Regions from separate parts of the Homo sapiens genome. Here region 1 is linked to region 2. The links come from fine-mapping of genetic effects on gene expression. A gene starts in region 2. The other region holds a variant in brackets. All regions are shown on one strand. Distances are between the middles of the regions.

What was found. PIP is the estimated chance that this variant, and not a neighbour inherited with it, causes the effect.
Region 1: its variant is fine-mapped to the expression of NFIB in fibroblasts (GTEx, PIP above 0.99).

Annotation. Positions count from the first base shown.
Region 1 is chr9:14,354,431-14,362,768 of GRCh38, reverse strand. NFIB-AS1 (NFIB antisense RNA 1) reads right to left here. Exons shown (of 2, transcript NR_186536.1): 2 at 4,205-5,617. It also overlaps a transcript of NFIB not described here. Among named protein-coding and RNA genes, the nearest start is that of NFIB-AS1, 42 kb to the right of the region's middle. RefSeq lists an enhancer at 6,488-6,987. The variant C/A (reference allele first, on the strand shown) is at 4,087.
Region 2 is chr9:14,309,215-14,317,552 of GRCh38, reverse strand. It overlaps NFIB (nuclear factor I B), which reads left to right and starts at 3,412. Exons shown (of 11, transcript NM_001190737.2): 1 at 3,412-4,071. The coding sequence starts at 4,042. NFIB-AS1 (NFIB antisense RNA 1) reads right to left here and starts at 466. Exons shown (of 2, transcript NR_186536.1): 1 at 208-466. RefSeq lists a silencer at 3,709-4,003.

The DNA of each region.
Region 1 (8,338 bases), 45 kb before region 2:
TGCACAGAACCATGCCTGGCTAATTTTCAGATTTGTCATAGAGATGTGTCTTTCTATGTTGCCCAGGCTGGGCTCGAATTCCTGGCCTTACGAGATCCTCCCTGCCTCGGCCTCCTGAAGTGTGGGATTATAGATATGAGCCACGGGACCTGGCCTCACCAAAAGTTCTTAAACCAAGAAAACACAGGGCAGTAACAGGTATTCTTCCTTTTCTTGAAGAATTATCCTGCCAAAACAGTTTCCCCACAGTTTGTGGTGAAAGCTAGAGGCATCCTGAGGCATCCCAAGGCAGCCTTGGAAGACTGCGATCTATGTTCCTTTGGGGATACTTGAGTTTCTGTGGATGGAAATGCTCTGGAGAAGCTCTATTTGTTGACAGTGGCAGACACCCAGTTCTTGATGTTCATAAAACTATGGCAGGCAGAGTTGGGAAAGATATATTAGGTCATAAATCTAGATTTGGGTCCAAGGCAGAATGGTTCACCATTGTAGTCATTCCAAGTCATTGTCCAGGCAGCTTTGAAATATCTTGAGGGCCTAACTCTTAGAAGGCTATTTTTCTCCTCTGGTTCCTGGGCAAATGTTGGGGTATTTGATTTTTTCTTTTTTAAAAAGACATGTTAGAATTGGAGCCACAGAACTACTTAATTATCTCCATTCACCTAAATTTCTATAGTGGTTTCCTTATGAAGAAAACAATTAATGTAGAGAGGCCCTAGTACCTCTGGCATAAAGTTGTCATCAAAGAACAAATCAATGATTTTCTTTGGTTCCTTGTATTTCACCTTTTGTGTTGAGTTTTGTTTCAGCTTTAAGGAAAAAGCAAACTTGCTGGGCTTCTCATTAGCCAGCATTATCAAGAATGAGTAAGATTTAAAAGCTCCTTTTTGTTAATGGAAAGGAATTAGCTTCCTTGCCTTTCCTATAAACATTTACATTGAGTCTGTTTACTCCTGTCATTGGTAAACCTCATTTGTTCCCAAGTTTTATTTTAGGCTATTACAGGGCTAAGAAAAAAATGGGAAATCCTAAAACTAAGCTTTCATTTTTTCATGTTTTCTTTTAACTTCATATTGAATGATCCTAATCTTCCAAAAGATTTTAGTGGCTACTGTTGTGTAGCAAAGAGGGAGACTGTTCTAGACTACAAAGAGAGTAGACTTGAATTAATACAATTGCTTGACTAATGTATGCTATATGTCATTAGTGAAATCATTTATGTGCCTTGCATGCATGCATGTGTGTGCATGTATGTGATGTGATGTGGTTTGCTTGCTTGTTCATGAAAATATTCAGAACAATTCTCTTTTTGATCAGTAATGCTACTAGCAAATACAGAAGTGCTGAAGAATAATATGATATTTGAATATTTGCATTTGAAAGCCTATTATCATTTTAAACCAAGACAAGTGGGTGTTAGTTTACTGATGCCAGTGACATCAGCATTAGTAATGGGCTCTTTTAGCAAAAAGCAATCCTCAAAAGTCTTTTTTTTTTTTTTTTTAAGAATTCTGAAAGATGAGCTCCCAGTTAATCAACTCTCAAGGAGCTGACTGTAAATGTTATCTGAGTTAAACTTATCTGAATTTAATTAGATTAAAAAGTTGACTGGGAATTCATCCAAAATGTGCTCATCAAAAAACAAAGGTATTTGAAAGTGGAGGAAAACAAACAGGATTATGGGTGACAAAATTAATTTGAAATCTCTTAAACCTGGAAAAATCATTAAAGATAGAAATGCTGAATGTAAATCATTTTATTTTTATTTTAAAAATAATTAATGAAATATGTCTATCCCTGGGGTTTTCTGTGACATGTTCCTTTCAGAAAAGTGCTCTTCCACACTAACAAATAAAAATTATCAAAAGGTACAAAATTAACCAAAGGTACAACATCACTGAAAATCACCATAAGGCCAGGCGCGGTGGCTCAAGCCTGTAATCCCAGGCTTGAGGCCCAGGCTTTGGGAGGCCCAGGCGGGCGGATGACGAGGTCAGGAGATCGAGACCATTCTGGCTAACAAGGTGAAACCCCGTCTCTACTAAAAATACAAAAAATTAGCCGGGCGTATTGGCGGGCGCCTGTAGTCCCAGCTGCTCAGAAGGCTGAGGCAGGAGAATGGTGTGAGCCCGGGAGGCGGAGCTTGCAGTGAGCCGAGATCGCGCCACTGCACTCCAGCCTGGGCGACAGAGTGAGACTCCATCTCAAAAAAAAAAAAAAGAAAAAAACAGAAAATCACCATAATAATATTTTTCCACCCAAATCATTCAATTTGCCAAAATACTTTTTGTTATAATTTGTGGATGTAGTTAAATGTAATCTCATAAAGAATTAAAAGTATTTTAATTGTGCATTAACCAAATTCTGTTTAGGAAAAATAATAAAATTACTTGAATTTAGAACTGTTCGGAAAATTATAAACTATATAATGAAAAGTTCATACTGCTAGTGACCTCAATATGGGGGCTATACCAAATTTCTTACTGGCAAATAAATTGTAAGCTCTTAAATAGATGGATATCTGTCCTGAATCGAATGCTTTAGATAAGGGTTGGGCTTAATATAAGTGTTTGTAGCACAAATGAACATGATTGAATTCAGGTAGGTCTTAAGTTGTTCACTGTTTGCTATATATTTTCCTGATTGTCTTTTTTAGTTATGCCTCATTTAAATAGTAACTGACCAAGTGATAACAACTATATGTATTTAAAATGCTCTCTGTGCAGATGAGCACTTTCAAAAGTTCTCCAAAAATTAGCATGTCTACATTGGTTAGGAATTTGGCTTAAAAAGAAAAAAAATAATTTTCTCATATAATATGTAATATTTAAAAATCTAGTGGTAGAATAGATCCAGTTTCTTAAACAATGCCTTTCTTTAAATCTAACTTTACTACTTTCTGTGCTGCTTTAAATGTCTTTCTTTAAATCTAACTTTACTACTTTCTGCGCTGCTTTCATTCATAGGTATATCTAGTAGCAAAGATGGAACCACCCAGCAACCCCAGGGAGAAGGAGAGTGTTTGTTTTACCATAGAAGCTGAGTTCCCATTGCCCTAGCTTGTATCACATGCCCATCCCTCAACCATACACTAGTGCTGCAGTGGTGAGCTGGTGTATTATTAATAGTTTCTTATGGCTCCCATAACAAATTTCCAAAAACTGGTGGCTTAAAACAAAAGAAATTGATTATCTCACATTTATGGAGGCCACTAGTCCAAAGTCAAGGTGTCAGCAGGGTCATGCTACCTCTGGAAGCTCTGGGGGAGATTTTGTTTCTTTCTCATCCAGCTTCTGGTGCCTCCAGGTATTCCTTGGTTTCCGGCCACATCACTGCAATCTCGGCCTGTGTGGCCATTGCTTCCTCATCTTATCTTTATGTCTCTTTGGTGTGTCTGTGTCAAATTGCTTCTGCCTTTATCCCATAAGGGTACACATGATTGTATATAGAGCCCACATGGATAATCCAGGAGGATTTCATCTCAAGATCCTTAACCTAGTCACACGTGCAAAGGCCTTTTTTCAAATAAGGTCACATTCACAAGTTCCACAGGCTAGGATTTGGACATATCTTTTTAGGGGCCACCATTCAACCCACTACAGCTGCCAGTTTAACAATCTCCTTGGCAAGAAAGGGTATACCCTGATCTTGTAGCATTTGCCCAGTTCTGTAGTGTAAACGCTGCTACCATGGCCAACTTCAAGCTATCAAAGGGAAGTCAATGAACATGGAATTGGGAAGAGATGTATAGCAGCACGCCATTATCCGGTGTTTCTACTACCAGATCCAACAGATGTAAGTAAACTCAAGAGCATAAATAATAGTAAAATGCAGTCAAATGATTAGGAAGTGATGATAAGGTTGATGTATCATTACCTTCATTTTTAACATAATTTAATTATAAGGTTGTGAACTTTAAATTTTAATGGTGAGTGTTTAACAACTGGCACATGAAATTTCTGAACATTTACCAGTTGATTTGGATGAGTTGATATGAGTTGGCTGCAACAGACCACTGGATAAAATACGCTGACTGATGGGGCCTGAGTCATAGAGCCTAGGGTGTAAGGTCAGCAATAGCCAAAC[C/A]ACATGAACTGGAAATAGGGTGTGTGGTTTCTTTTAGAGAAAACTGGGGTGCTACTACCTAAAGAAGGAGAAAGTAACATTGGGAAGACAAAAACAACGAATCCACCTCAGTCCTCAGTGTCATTGTTTCAACATATTTTAATGATTTCAGGCTAGGAAAAAACTTTCAGCAAAGTTTCCAAGAATTACAAGTATGACTGCTGTGGGTATGCACGTACCTGCAAATCAGACTCTCTCCTCCTATGGAAAAAAACACAGTTTTTCACATTTCCATTTTAGTTAGCCCATAAAATCTGGCTTTTTAAGCCTGGACACATTTATCCCAAAGTGATTGTGCTCAGAAAATGTGAAAGAAACGAACAGCCTTTTTTTAAAGTATATATTTTTTAGTTTTTAGCAGTTTTATTTATGTATTTATATATAATTCACATTTTATATAAATATAAAATTATTTTATATAGTATATATTTATTGATATATGAGTTATATATCAATAAATAGATATTAATTATGTAAATAAACTTATGTCTAATTCACACATTGTGCAATTCATCCATTTAAAGGGCAAAATGCAATGGTTTTTAACAAAATCACAAAGTTGCACAACCATCACTACAATTAATTTTACAACATTTAATCAACCTAAAAAGAAACTCTGCACCACTTTGCTGTCATCCTCCAGGCTCCCCAAACTCTCCCCAAGCTCTAGCCAATCACTAGTCTAGTTTCTGTCCCTATAGAATTGCCTATTCTAGGAATTTCATATAAGTAGAATGGTACAATACATATTCTTTTGTGACAGGCTTCTCTTACTTAGCATGATATTTTAAGGTCCATCCTTGTTAACGCATGTATTAATATTTCATTTCTTTCTTCACCAAATAGCATTCCATTACACGTATATCCCACGTTAAGTTTATCCATTCATTGGTTGATGGACGTGTGGATTGCTTTCCCTTTTTGGCTATTATGAAAAGGCTGCTGTGAACATTCATTTACAGGTTTTTACGTGGACATAAGTTTCCATTTCTCTTAAACCAATGGTCTCTTTAGTAAGTGTTCTTATTTTCCACATGATTAAGGAAACTGCTATTTAGGAGTTAACTCAGAAATATCTCATGTAGAATTTCAAACCTCTTGAATATTGGGTCACTACCTCCAACCCTGCTATTTCTTGGTAGGGAGGAGGAGGGTGCTGTCTATCAGGAAAAAGTTGGATCTGACTTGGGGCTCACAGATCACTGCACAGGGGTGACTGAATTCCCTTTGCAGCACCTGAGGCCAGGTCTGGCCCACAACTGGCTCACAGTAATCAGCCCATCACAGTGTTCCTTCAGGGACTCTCCACATATAAAGTATACAGAGTAAGAAAAATAAAACCTTAGTCTCTGACCTGGAAATCAGAGTCATGGGGTTTGGGAAACTTGCAGGAAAGAAGAGGAAAAAAAAAATAGCTTTCCTGATAGAAGCCAATGAAGTTAATTTTCTCCCTTGTGTGACTTGGAGGAGTTCTTTGGTGTGTCCTGCAGACCTGCAATGAAAAAGAAGGCCCTATATTAATTTATACAGCAACTCTTTTCCAAGAAATTCAGAGCATTTCAAACAGTCTTTCACTCATTCCCCTGAGGGATTTTGCACAGTGTGCATAAGAAATTACTTCTTTTAAAATTTACACTCTTCAGTTAGCCAGTACTGAGCAGAAATAGAACTAGAAAAGCAGACCTCCTGACCAAACATTCCGCTATAATATTTTCAGTGAGCTTCTATAAATCAGTGTATATCCTTAAAAACAGGATCTCCCCATAACAGCCCCATGACCACTCACCGGTGACTGACATTCCTTTCAGCAAGAGCAAAAGTTTCCCTTCCAAATTAGAATCCACTGGTATGGCATGCACTATAAAACTGAAGTGTATCATTATTCATAATTAAGTGCTCAGGATCACCCAGACCCTCAGACCATCCAGTTTTACTCTCCAGCTCAGCCCTCCTAACTCACCCCAGCTGAGGACCCCTTAATAATCCTGAAACTGGTGGAGTGCAAGAGAGGAGTCCTGCTCGTAAACCCCAGGCAAAAAACAGGAGACGAAATCAGTCCTGCTCTCACTGTTGTTTCTTGCTCTGTCTCGGTGCTGTTTTTACACGGGGCTGCACTGCCCCTCAGGGCCTTGCTGACCATTCTGGGTAGCATATTCAGCTCCAGCTTCCCAAAGCCCACCAGCATCAGCCACATGCAGGGCTAAACTTAGCCCTCAACCCCAAACACTAGTTCCTCGTGTGGGGCCTTTTCTCAAGATATTCTTATTGTGAAATCCTCAGTATCCATCCCTGGGAAAAGAAAATCTTGGTCCGAGCCACACTAGCTCATGTGGAATCTTGGGAAATAACATCCTGGGGAGTATCTGTGCCTTTCTTTTTCCCACTTCAAGAAAACCTCTGGGATCCATAAGTTCCCTCCTAGTGACTACCAGAGAATGGGAAGTTTTAATCCAGTTAGTGACAAAAAGTGCGTACTAGTGTCTCACGCTGCCCCAGCCTCAGGCATATTTTGTTTGGGACCCCATAATCTTAATATGCACATTATTTAAAACGTGTACTAGTTGTCAGCTAGCACTGGCCACACAGTTTGTGAGGGACCAGTGCAATGCAAAAATGCAAGCCCGTTGTTGAAAGTTTAAGAATTGCAAATTGGCCTTTTTTTTTTTTTTTTATTTGTTTGTTTGTTTGAGGCGGAGTCTCGCTCTGTCACCCAGGCTGCAGTGCAGTGGCGTGATCTCAGCTCACTGCAAGCTCCGCCTCCCGGGTTCATGCCATTCTCCTGCCTCAGCCTCCGGAGTAGCTGGGACTACAGGCACCCGCCACCACGACTGGCTAATTTCTTTGTATTTTTAGTAGAGACAGGGTTTCACCGTGTTAGGCAGGATGGTCTCGAACTCCTGACCTTGTGATCCACCTGCCTCGGCCTCCCAGAGTGTTGGGATTACAGGCGTGAGCCACTGCAGCCGGCCAGGCAAGCAGGGTATTTAAGCCAACGTGGGGCACTTCTAAGTATGGGATCCCGTGTGACTGCAAAGGACACACACCCAGGAAGCCAGCCCTGCTGCCAATATTTAAAAAGCAAAAGATTCTTCAAATAGAGAATCTGGTAACCCTGGGTCTGCATCTCCAAATGGCTGTACATAATGGGCTGGTGCAGAGTATCATCTTGTTGTATTGGTTTGCTGCGCTTGCCATTACAAAATACTGCAGATTGGGTGGCTTAAACAGCAGAAATTTATTTTCTCACAATTCTAGGGGCTCAAGTCTGAGATCAAGTTGTCAGCAGGGTTGGTTTCTTCCGAGGCCTCTTTCTTTGTAGATGGCTACCTACTCCGTCTTCATATGGTCTTCCCTCTATACATGTCTGTGTCCTAATCACTTCTTACAGGGACTCCACCAGTCATACTGGATTAGGGCCCACTTCATAATAACTTAAGTACCCCCTTAAAGGCCCTATCTCCAAATACAGTCACATTCTGAGGTATCAAGGGTGATTTTGGAGTGGCACAGTTCAGCCTGTAACACAGCTTTTCCCTTTGGGGAGGGGTGCAGTGTTCCAAGTCACTGTGCTTACTCCAACCCAAACATGCTCACACACACACAGCATCTCCCCATCCCTGAAGCAGGGGTCGGTTGCTATAGGTCATCTCATTTGTGCTGCTGTTCTTCCTCTGGTTCGCTTCTCTCATTTAGAGAGACCTGCTCCTCCCCTGCCGCACAAGGAATAGTGACAGTGTTCACAACAGGACAAGGGCTACACACTCCCTTCACATCTGTAAAGCTAAGGTTGCTGTTCAAGTGATCCTTCACGGGACAATCCATTTCTACACACACACACACACACACACACACACACACACACAGAGTACCCATTACATAGAGATAACCATTTAAATGCAATGCTGAAGGAAAAAATTGCCATGAGGTATAACTGACTGCTCACCTCAGAAACTAGATTTGGAGATTTTAGGAGAGAAAAACCCTCAGCGACTACATAATTATTCCCCAGGGCTGATCCCACTTAAAAATTCACCTGACTGTACAAGGGATGGCCCTAAATTTCAATGGAAACCCAACCATGTAGCCCCTTAGAGAGACCGTACTCTCAAATTGGTCTTTGTACCTATTTGTAGAAAAATGTTAGCCAGATTATAGCTGAAAACTCTGCTAATTCTGGGGAAGATTTTGGTCTTGTGCCTGGAACTATTGAAGC
Region 2 (8,338 bases):
TTGGTTTTCCTCGCCTCACCATACTCCTATCTCATTTTCCTTTTTCTGGGAAACAAATCAAAACCAAAAACTATCAAGCATCCTCTATGGTCATCAAAGTGCAACCAGCCATAAGCACCCTCAAACGTGGGGCAATTGAAAGAGATTTGAACCCCTAAGTGATGGGCCTGGGAGGCCCCAGACGTCTTCACTTCTCTGGGGTCTTACCTGGATCTGACGCTGCTTCTTCGCCCTTGGTGTTGCTGAAGCTTTTGTGGGCTCTTCTGTGTAATACTTGTCAATTTTTCGTTTTTCTTTTTTAAGCTTGTGAAAAACTTTTGGATGCAACCTAGTTTTGGTGGCAGAAGGAAATGGTTTCTGTTGGGAAAGGGAAACTAATAAAGGGAGGAGGGGTAGCGATGTCGGGAGACACTTGCCCAGGGCTCAGCCCTGGGCCTCTTTTTGCCAGGGGACAACGGCTGGTTCTGGGCTCTCAGGCTGAAAGGAGTGCTCTCTGGGTGCCAGGATTTCACTGGGGGTGGTGTGGTGAGGAGGGAGGGAAGAAGGGAGGGAGGGAGAGAAGGAGAGATGGGCGCTCGATTTTTAAAGAGACCCCGAAATAATGGCTTCTATGAGAGTCCAGGCATTCAAAGAGGTGTGTTCAAGGATATTAGTGCATTCCTGCCAAGGGGAATGTCTTTTATGGTAAATTAACTCCAGTTAAATTGAATATTTGTTCAAAGGGAAACTGCAGTAGTTAAAGCTGGTATTATCAGTAGAGCTTCCCCACCCCCTCCCCTCAGAATCTGGTGAGGGTGAGAAAGGGGATGCAGTGTAATGTGCAATACAAAGTGATGCTTTCGTGCTGGTGGTTTCTCTGTGTGTGTGTGTCTGTGTGTGTTTAATCTAAGATGAGGTTGCCTAAAATTTCTGAGAGAAATGAGTATTTACTTGGATTAACCCTGTCACCTCATTTCTTTCATCCATAAAGACTGCCAACTTTATCCCAGCTTTTCAAAAAGAAGAAATGACCCGCACAAAGGAAATTAACGTTGTCAGAACGCTGACTCCAGGATTTGCCGGGGCAGGGGCGGGGACCGCAGGGAGGCCGCTCCCAGGGCGTGTGGCCGAAAGGGTTAACTCGCAGGGGTCCGCGCGATCTCCCCGACTTTACCTGTCTTCCTAGTCCCAGCAGCCCCCGTCCCCGGCCTCCCGAACTCCCCACCCCCCAGCGCCTTTCTTCTTTGGGCTCTGGGTTTACGGGGGCTGCAGCTGGTAAACTTGGCAAGCTCGCCTCATTAAGAGCGCTCTTTGAAAACGGACTGTGTTTGAGCATTTCCCTAATGAGGACAGGACGGGGTTAAAAAGTGACCATTTCATGGTTGACTTGAACCTGCCTACTTTTCTTGATGTGTCGTTGTGAAATGCTTGATGTGGATAACTCCCACTTGGTGAAGGAAAAAGTCACTGGTTCCTCCAGGTCCGCTGGGGGAGGGAAGAGGGGACGGTGGACAGAAACCAGAGGGAGTGAGAGGGGCTAAAGTTGAGGGGACAGATCACGAGCTGGGAAGCGGTGGAAAGAGGACCGGGGAATCGGGGGCGAGCCTCGAAACGCCCCAGCAGTACCCGTGGAAGCGGGGCGGCCCCGCCCTGGGGATGGGCCCGCGAGGACCCGGTAGCCCCAGCGCCCCCCGGATCCCCCAGCTAGGTAGACTCGGAGCCCCAGGCGCTCACTTTTCCTCCCTCCATTGTCTGGGAGGCCTTTGCTTCCCCCTCGTCCCCATCCACCCCAAGCAGAAAACTGGATTTGGGGGGCGGTGTGTGTATGTGGGCGGGGGGTGCAGAAAGGGTGCAAGGCGAACCGCCTTCTTCAAAATCCCTGGAATCAAGTTCATTCACTCGGAGCCTGCACGGGCGACGGGGTGGGGGCGGGGCAGCGCCGCGGTGGGGAGCCGGCGCGGGCGCCGAGCGGCTCAGGGCCCGCAGCCTCTGGAGGGCTGCAGCGGCGCGCGCGCGCCCGCCGGCCCGCCCCGCAGCCCCGGGCGCGCCGCGGCCCCGCCCCGCCTGCACCCGGGCGGGTAGGGAGACGCTTTCCGCCGGCGCCCCGGGCCCCGGGGGGTGGGGATTGGGAGCCAGCCAGCGGGGCTGCAGGAGGAGGAGGAGGAGAGCGAAGCCGGGCGCGGGGAGGAGGTGGAGGGAGCAAGAGGCGGCGGCGGCGGCTCGGCCCGGTCCTCCCGCTCAGAGCGAGGCCACGTGCACGGGGCACCCCCGGGGAGGGCGGCAAACCGCGGCGAAGCGCCGCGCGCCGCGACTGCCTCGGGTGCGGGCCCCTGGTGGGCAGACCCGGGACGAACCCGCACCCCCTCCCTATCCGCGAACCCGGGCTCCGGGCGGGGCCGTCGGGGGCTGGGCGCCGCACCCCCCTGGTCCACGCCGGCGCGCCCCAACTACTTGAGCCCAAGTTCGCTCAGGTCCCCGCCTGCTCGGCCTCCCCCTTTTCCCGGCAGCCGCAGGCTCCGCGGACTGAGCCCGCCCCGGGTGCGAGTGTCCGCGCCCCAGCCCCGGCCTGGGGGCGGCCTGGGTGTGAGGGAATTTTCCACTCGTTCCTTTCTCGGGCTCAGACGGTTTCGGTGCTTCTCCCACTCGGATGTTCCCGCGGCTTAAAAGAGTCCGCAGCGAGCACCGAAATACCTCTTCCAGGGCGGGTTTTCGGGGGTGTGTATGTGTGTGCTGGTGTGGGGAGGGCAGCGGAAAGAAGAGCTATTTTGGAAAAAAAAAAAAAGTCATGGTTCTGTAGCACCGGTAGGATACCTTTAACAAATGAGGGAGAGGTGGGGGGAGAGAAGGAGAAGGAGGAGGAGGAGGAAGGTGGGGGGGCGGGGGGTGTGGAGAGGCTGGTGCAAAAGGAATGCGCGTTTGCAGGAGGAGGAGTAAAGCGATGATTGTGTAATTAAATAATAAAACAATCCTTAAGTCTGATTTGGAGAGAGCTCGAGCGGGGTCCAGAGGGTGGAACCGGTGAATTTTTCAACTTCCAAGTTTTGCAACGAAAGAAAGCAAGAGAGGGAGGGAAAAAAAAGAGCCTAGAGCAGAAAAGAGAGGAGTTTGGAGCCGAGCGGGAGAGCGGGATTTATCGTTTGGAATTTTTCAGGAGATCGTTTTGATACCCCTGGGCTCTGGGCAGCGGCGGCAACAGCAGCCTCCACGCTCGGCCGGGTCAGACGCGGGGCGAGGCGGGCGGGCGGGCGGCCGGGCGCCGAAGACCCGGCGCGGGCGGCGGCGGCTGCTGCTGCCGGGGACCACGCGCCGCGAGCCTCTTCCGCCCCAGAGATCAGCGCTCGCGCCCCCTCCCTCACCCCGGCCTCTCCCTTCTCCCCCATCCCACCCCGCCCCCACCCCGGCCCTCTCCCGCGCGCGCCCCGCCACCCGCGCGCACTCGCTCACGCTGCCCCTCGCGCACACACATGGTCGGCTCGCGGCAAAGTTTCGCCTGCGATCACCACTCCGGGATCCTGCCGCAGTGCTTGGGGCTGTAACCTTGAACTTTCCCAGCGCGGTGACACATTCTCCCCGCTCTCCCTCCCGCCCGCCCGCTCGCCCTCCTGCGCCCTCCCGCGCCCCCCTCCCCGCCTTTTTTGAAAAAGCATTTTACCACCAACCACCACCCCAATCCAACCCACACCGAACCTTCGCGCACCCCCTACACCCCAACAACAACAACAACTGCAAAATAGAAAACAAATCCCCAAACCCAGGCGAAAAGCAGCCAACACCGGCGGCGGCGGCGGCCTCGGCAAGCACGGCCAGCGCGCTCGGACTGCAAGAGGGTTAAAAGTGTAGATTGGATTTCACCCCTGGAAATCTAGCACGCCGAGTGAACTTGAATCTTTGGCTATTTAAGGAGGACTGGGTTTGTTGTGAAGTTGCGGTGATCCAGCGCAGAGCCCCGTCCTGATTGATCGCATCGCGGGGCTCAGATGACTGTAAAATGAATAGATGAAATTCTTGCTTCTCGAAGATTTTCTTGGGCATCTCCCGGAAAGTGCGTTTTAAGGCGAAGTCATGATGTATTCTCCCATCTGTCTCACTCAGGTACATGTCTCGGTCGCTTTCTCGAGCTTTCTCTCTGGCCCGAAATGCCTTTGTTTTGTTTTGTTGCGGACAATTAGCGGCTTGAGTTAACCTCCGCACATCCCCGTCCCTTGGAGAAGTGGCCCGGAGTTGCAGCGGGCGTCGCGGGGCGGCGTGGGAGCCGGGAGCGGCCCCTCGCCACGGCCACTGCGAGCGCCCAGCCCCGCGCCCTGGGCACGGAGCGCGGGCGCTGGGCCGGGCAAGGCCGCCGGGGGGTGGGCAGGGCCGGGACCTGTAAGTGCGAGGCCCCGTGCGGCCCCTCAAGTGCCCGTTGTGGTGCGGCATCCCCGCCCGGGGTGCCCGTAGCCCCTCTCAGCAGCTCGCGCGTTGAGGTGGACTCGGGCTTTGGAGGACTTTACGGGGGACTAAGCTTTTAAAAACAGCCAGTGAACTTGGGCGAGGGGACTGTAGCACGAGTCTGTGTGGGCGCCGCTGGACTGCGCTGCAGGCGGTGGGCGGGCGACGAATCGAGTCGGAGGTTGTGGTCCGGGGACCCATTCCTTTGCTTTATTTGGGGATCTGAAACCCTGGTCCATAGTGACCTGCTGCACTTTGGGGTTTCTAGTGACCGCACCACAAAGGCAGTATTTACGTTGACACGAGTTAGTTGGTCTTGGTGATTGTTAAGGAGTTTTTAGAACGTGTTCCTTTTGTGGAAACCTGTTCATTTGACGATATTTGGGCGTAGCTCGTAAGGCATTTTAAGTAATGCTGGTAGAAGTAAGGTCATTTTTTTCGACTTTGAGAATTGTCCTAAGACCTTAGGAATAATGTTATGAAATAAAACACTGGTTTTATACTTTTTAGAAACACGATTTGTATCACTTTAAGCCAGACGGTCAAATAGAAAAGCGGCGAGACCCAACAGACTTACCTGGGGGCAGTTTTCATCGCTGCCCAGGGAACTAACAACTGACAAAGTAACTAAAATATCTTAGCCCAGAACTGTTATTTGAGGCAGTATTTTAAACCTCTAAAGGTATGGGGCAGCTTATTTCAGCTTTTCGGAAGATGTGTCACCATTGGTAATTGATAACTATTTTCTTTGACATTGCCATGAAAACTAGTCATATAAAGAAGTGTCAGCCAGTCTTGGGCGTGTTAAAATTTTAAAAACATCTAATATCACGATGATGCATTTTTATAATGGACAAATAATTAAGATTTCAATTGTATGACAATTAGAAGCCATTGTGATTCAAAAGGACTGAGGCATTCATAAATTGTGAATGAAGATGAAAACAATGATAAGGCTTATTCAGTGATTGGATACAGTCCTGTAGCTTTTTGGCTGACACATTTTTTATTGTTTATATTTTGTTTGGCATCTGAGTATGATTAACTTAGATATGGCTATTTTCAGCAAGTAAACACGCACTTTAATTTAACAAAACTGGAAAAATGAGTTGCTGAGCTATTTGTATTTTAAAAGCCATGAATGATAATAGCCAATAAATATGATGAAACTGTTTCAGGTATAACGAATTGCCTTTACTTGTAAAAGTTACCATTAATATTACCCATCGGCTGGATATATTTTTCTCTTTCTGATAAGCTGTGTTAACTTGATATTATTTTTACACCGTGATCAAATAAAACAAATCAAAGCAAGATTTTCACTTACAGAGTATAGCATCACTTATTCTCACCTGTAAAAGATTGAATAATTGTGCATTTCTCTATATTTCTAACATCAGCTTTTCAGAAACATTGCTAGCAATTACATTGCATTTTTAGTATCCTCCAAATATGTATTGAAAAGTCACTAGTTTTATCTTAATTTGTGTAAGTTAAAGATAATATTGCAGCATTGAGACAGGGAATGTTGGGATCATATACAGCATAATCATTCAGCTATCACATTAGTATTCAGAGATACACACTTAACAACAATAACTTGTGATGACTAATATTCTCTACTATTTTAATAATATAAATCTAGGCTTATGTATTAAAACAAGGCCTACACCAGGGAAGGAATTTCAGCTTAAGAATTTTCACTTCACTAAGCTCCATGTGACTTTGCAGGTAATATAGGTGTTATAAAAGTGAGGCCACATTAATAGTGTCACTTTTGTATCAGATCAGTAGTTTTGTATCACAAGAGCCTAGTAGCTGTAGAAAAACATGTCTCAGGACATGTAAATTGCAAAATAGAGTATCATTCTTAATTGGTTATAAACTTTTAAAAGTATCTCAATTGTTGCAATAAGGTATCTAGGTTTTAGAAAAAAAATCTTAATTTAAAAGGACCTACCATTAAATGTTATGTTTAGCAAAATAGTATGCTACAAAATCAGCATATCAATAACCAATATTTATACACCAGTATAAATCAGATATAAAGGAAAAATTAAGAACTATCATATGATTTAATATATGTTTAAAAATAATGTAAACCATTAATAATATAACTTTCAATTGGCATGATGGCATTAAATATATTTTTCTTTCGTTGCTTTTAAGTTCTTTAGGTACATTTTTTGCATGATTTGTTGTTATATAGCAATGCGCCAAGAGCACCTAGTATTTACTCTTCTACCTCTATGTTGGTCTAAATTATCCATCCCTTTCATGGAAACGGAAGAAAAATAAATATGCCTAGTGGAATTAAGACTCTTTATTTTTATATCTGAAATTGGTAACTTTGTTATTTACTTTGTCAATTTAGTTCAACTAAAGGAAGTTTTAAAAGAGAATTACTGAACATCAATGCATTTTACTAAAAATTCTGAAAGAGCAAAGTTGCCTATTACCTTTGTATACAGTTGTTTGGTTTTAAATCACTTATATGTTTTGCTTTTTTTAAAGAATTTATGATTGCTTAATGCTATTGTAATAATCCACTACTAGTTAGGATATTTGAAAACCTTAATCACCTTTTAAAAAAATATTTTTGTATCAGGACAGTTATTATGTTCCATATTCATGTCACTCATAATCTTTAAGACTCTAGTGTTACTCAGCATTAGGAAACAGTCACACTTGGGAGATGACATTTAGGCATGTTAATACAGAAATATATGCGACTTACAGCAAACCTCAATTTACAGTCATTTTTGGAGGATATGTCCCCTTGTCAAATAAGTGCTTCACTTGAATTCACATAATAGTGAAACCCTGAACGATATCAATAAGGCAAACTGGCAGCCTGAGAAAGTTTGCTACTTTTATTTCTCAAAAAAAAGAGCATGTTTTAAAACAATATTGGCAGCATTGACAGCAAAGTCAAAGGAACGTTTAAAAACTGTGTGCATTTGCTAAGAATTTTCAAATTCAACCTTCAAATTTGAATTTTGGTTGTTTAAAATAACTCATTAAAATTTTGAGCTTTCTTGTGTGATAGATTATATTTATAATCAAATATTGAAACTCAAATTTAATCAAAACTGTGTTTGATGTCTTTATAAGAAAATGAAATGTCACTGAACATAGTACTTAAGGTGTAAGTACTTACGTGTTACCACATGGCTTAATATTTATAAAATAATATTGCATTTTAAAAAGCATGGCAAGGGTAAAATGAGTGAGACAGAGCCCACCCACTCCACCTCATGTGCTCTTTACATTCTCAAGGTTTTAGTTTTGTGAGTGCATATATGTGTGTTTTTTAGTCATATCAATAAATCGTAGTAAAAGATTATAGGAAGTGAGTTTCCAAAGCACATTTAAGTCCACATTTCCTTGAGCAGGCTTTCCTTTTGCATATATTCCTAAAGGGGATAAACAAAGTTTTTGTAGTTACAGTGAAAGCTAAAAGCATGGCATCAGAAAGTGTATGGAGATAGGGAGGTCTTATCATGGGATGTGGTTGCTGTGAGCAGGGCTGCCTTCCCACACAAAGAACAGATTGTGGTTTAACTCTTTCCATGGCCTAGTTTAATGTGCTCGCATAGTAACTGAATTGTTCAAATCTCTGCTGGAAACTACTGATCGGTTTAATGATTTCCTCTATGGCATTTGGGTATGCCTCATGCTGTGATGTAATCATCAGCATTCTGTATTGTTATAAAATTTTGATTCATACTTATTCTGGTGAAGGAACACTTACAGCAATGTTAGAACACTTGATAACTACATTATTGATTGGATGGGACATGTACTCCTTCCATATCTGAAGTGCAAACAGCTAACATGTTGCAGTCTGTAGCATTAAAACTTCGAATTTCTTCTTCAAAATGTATTCATATCTATATTGGATTTTTGACACCTTCTTTGTTAAAGAGTC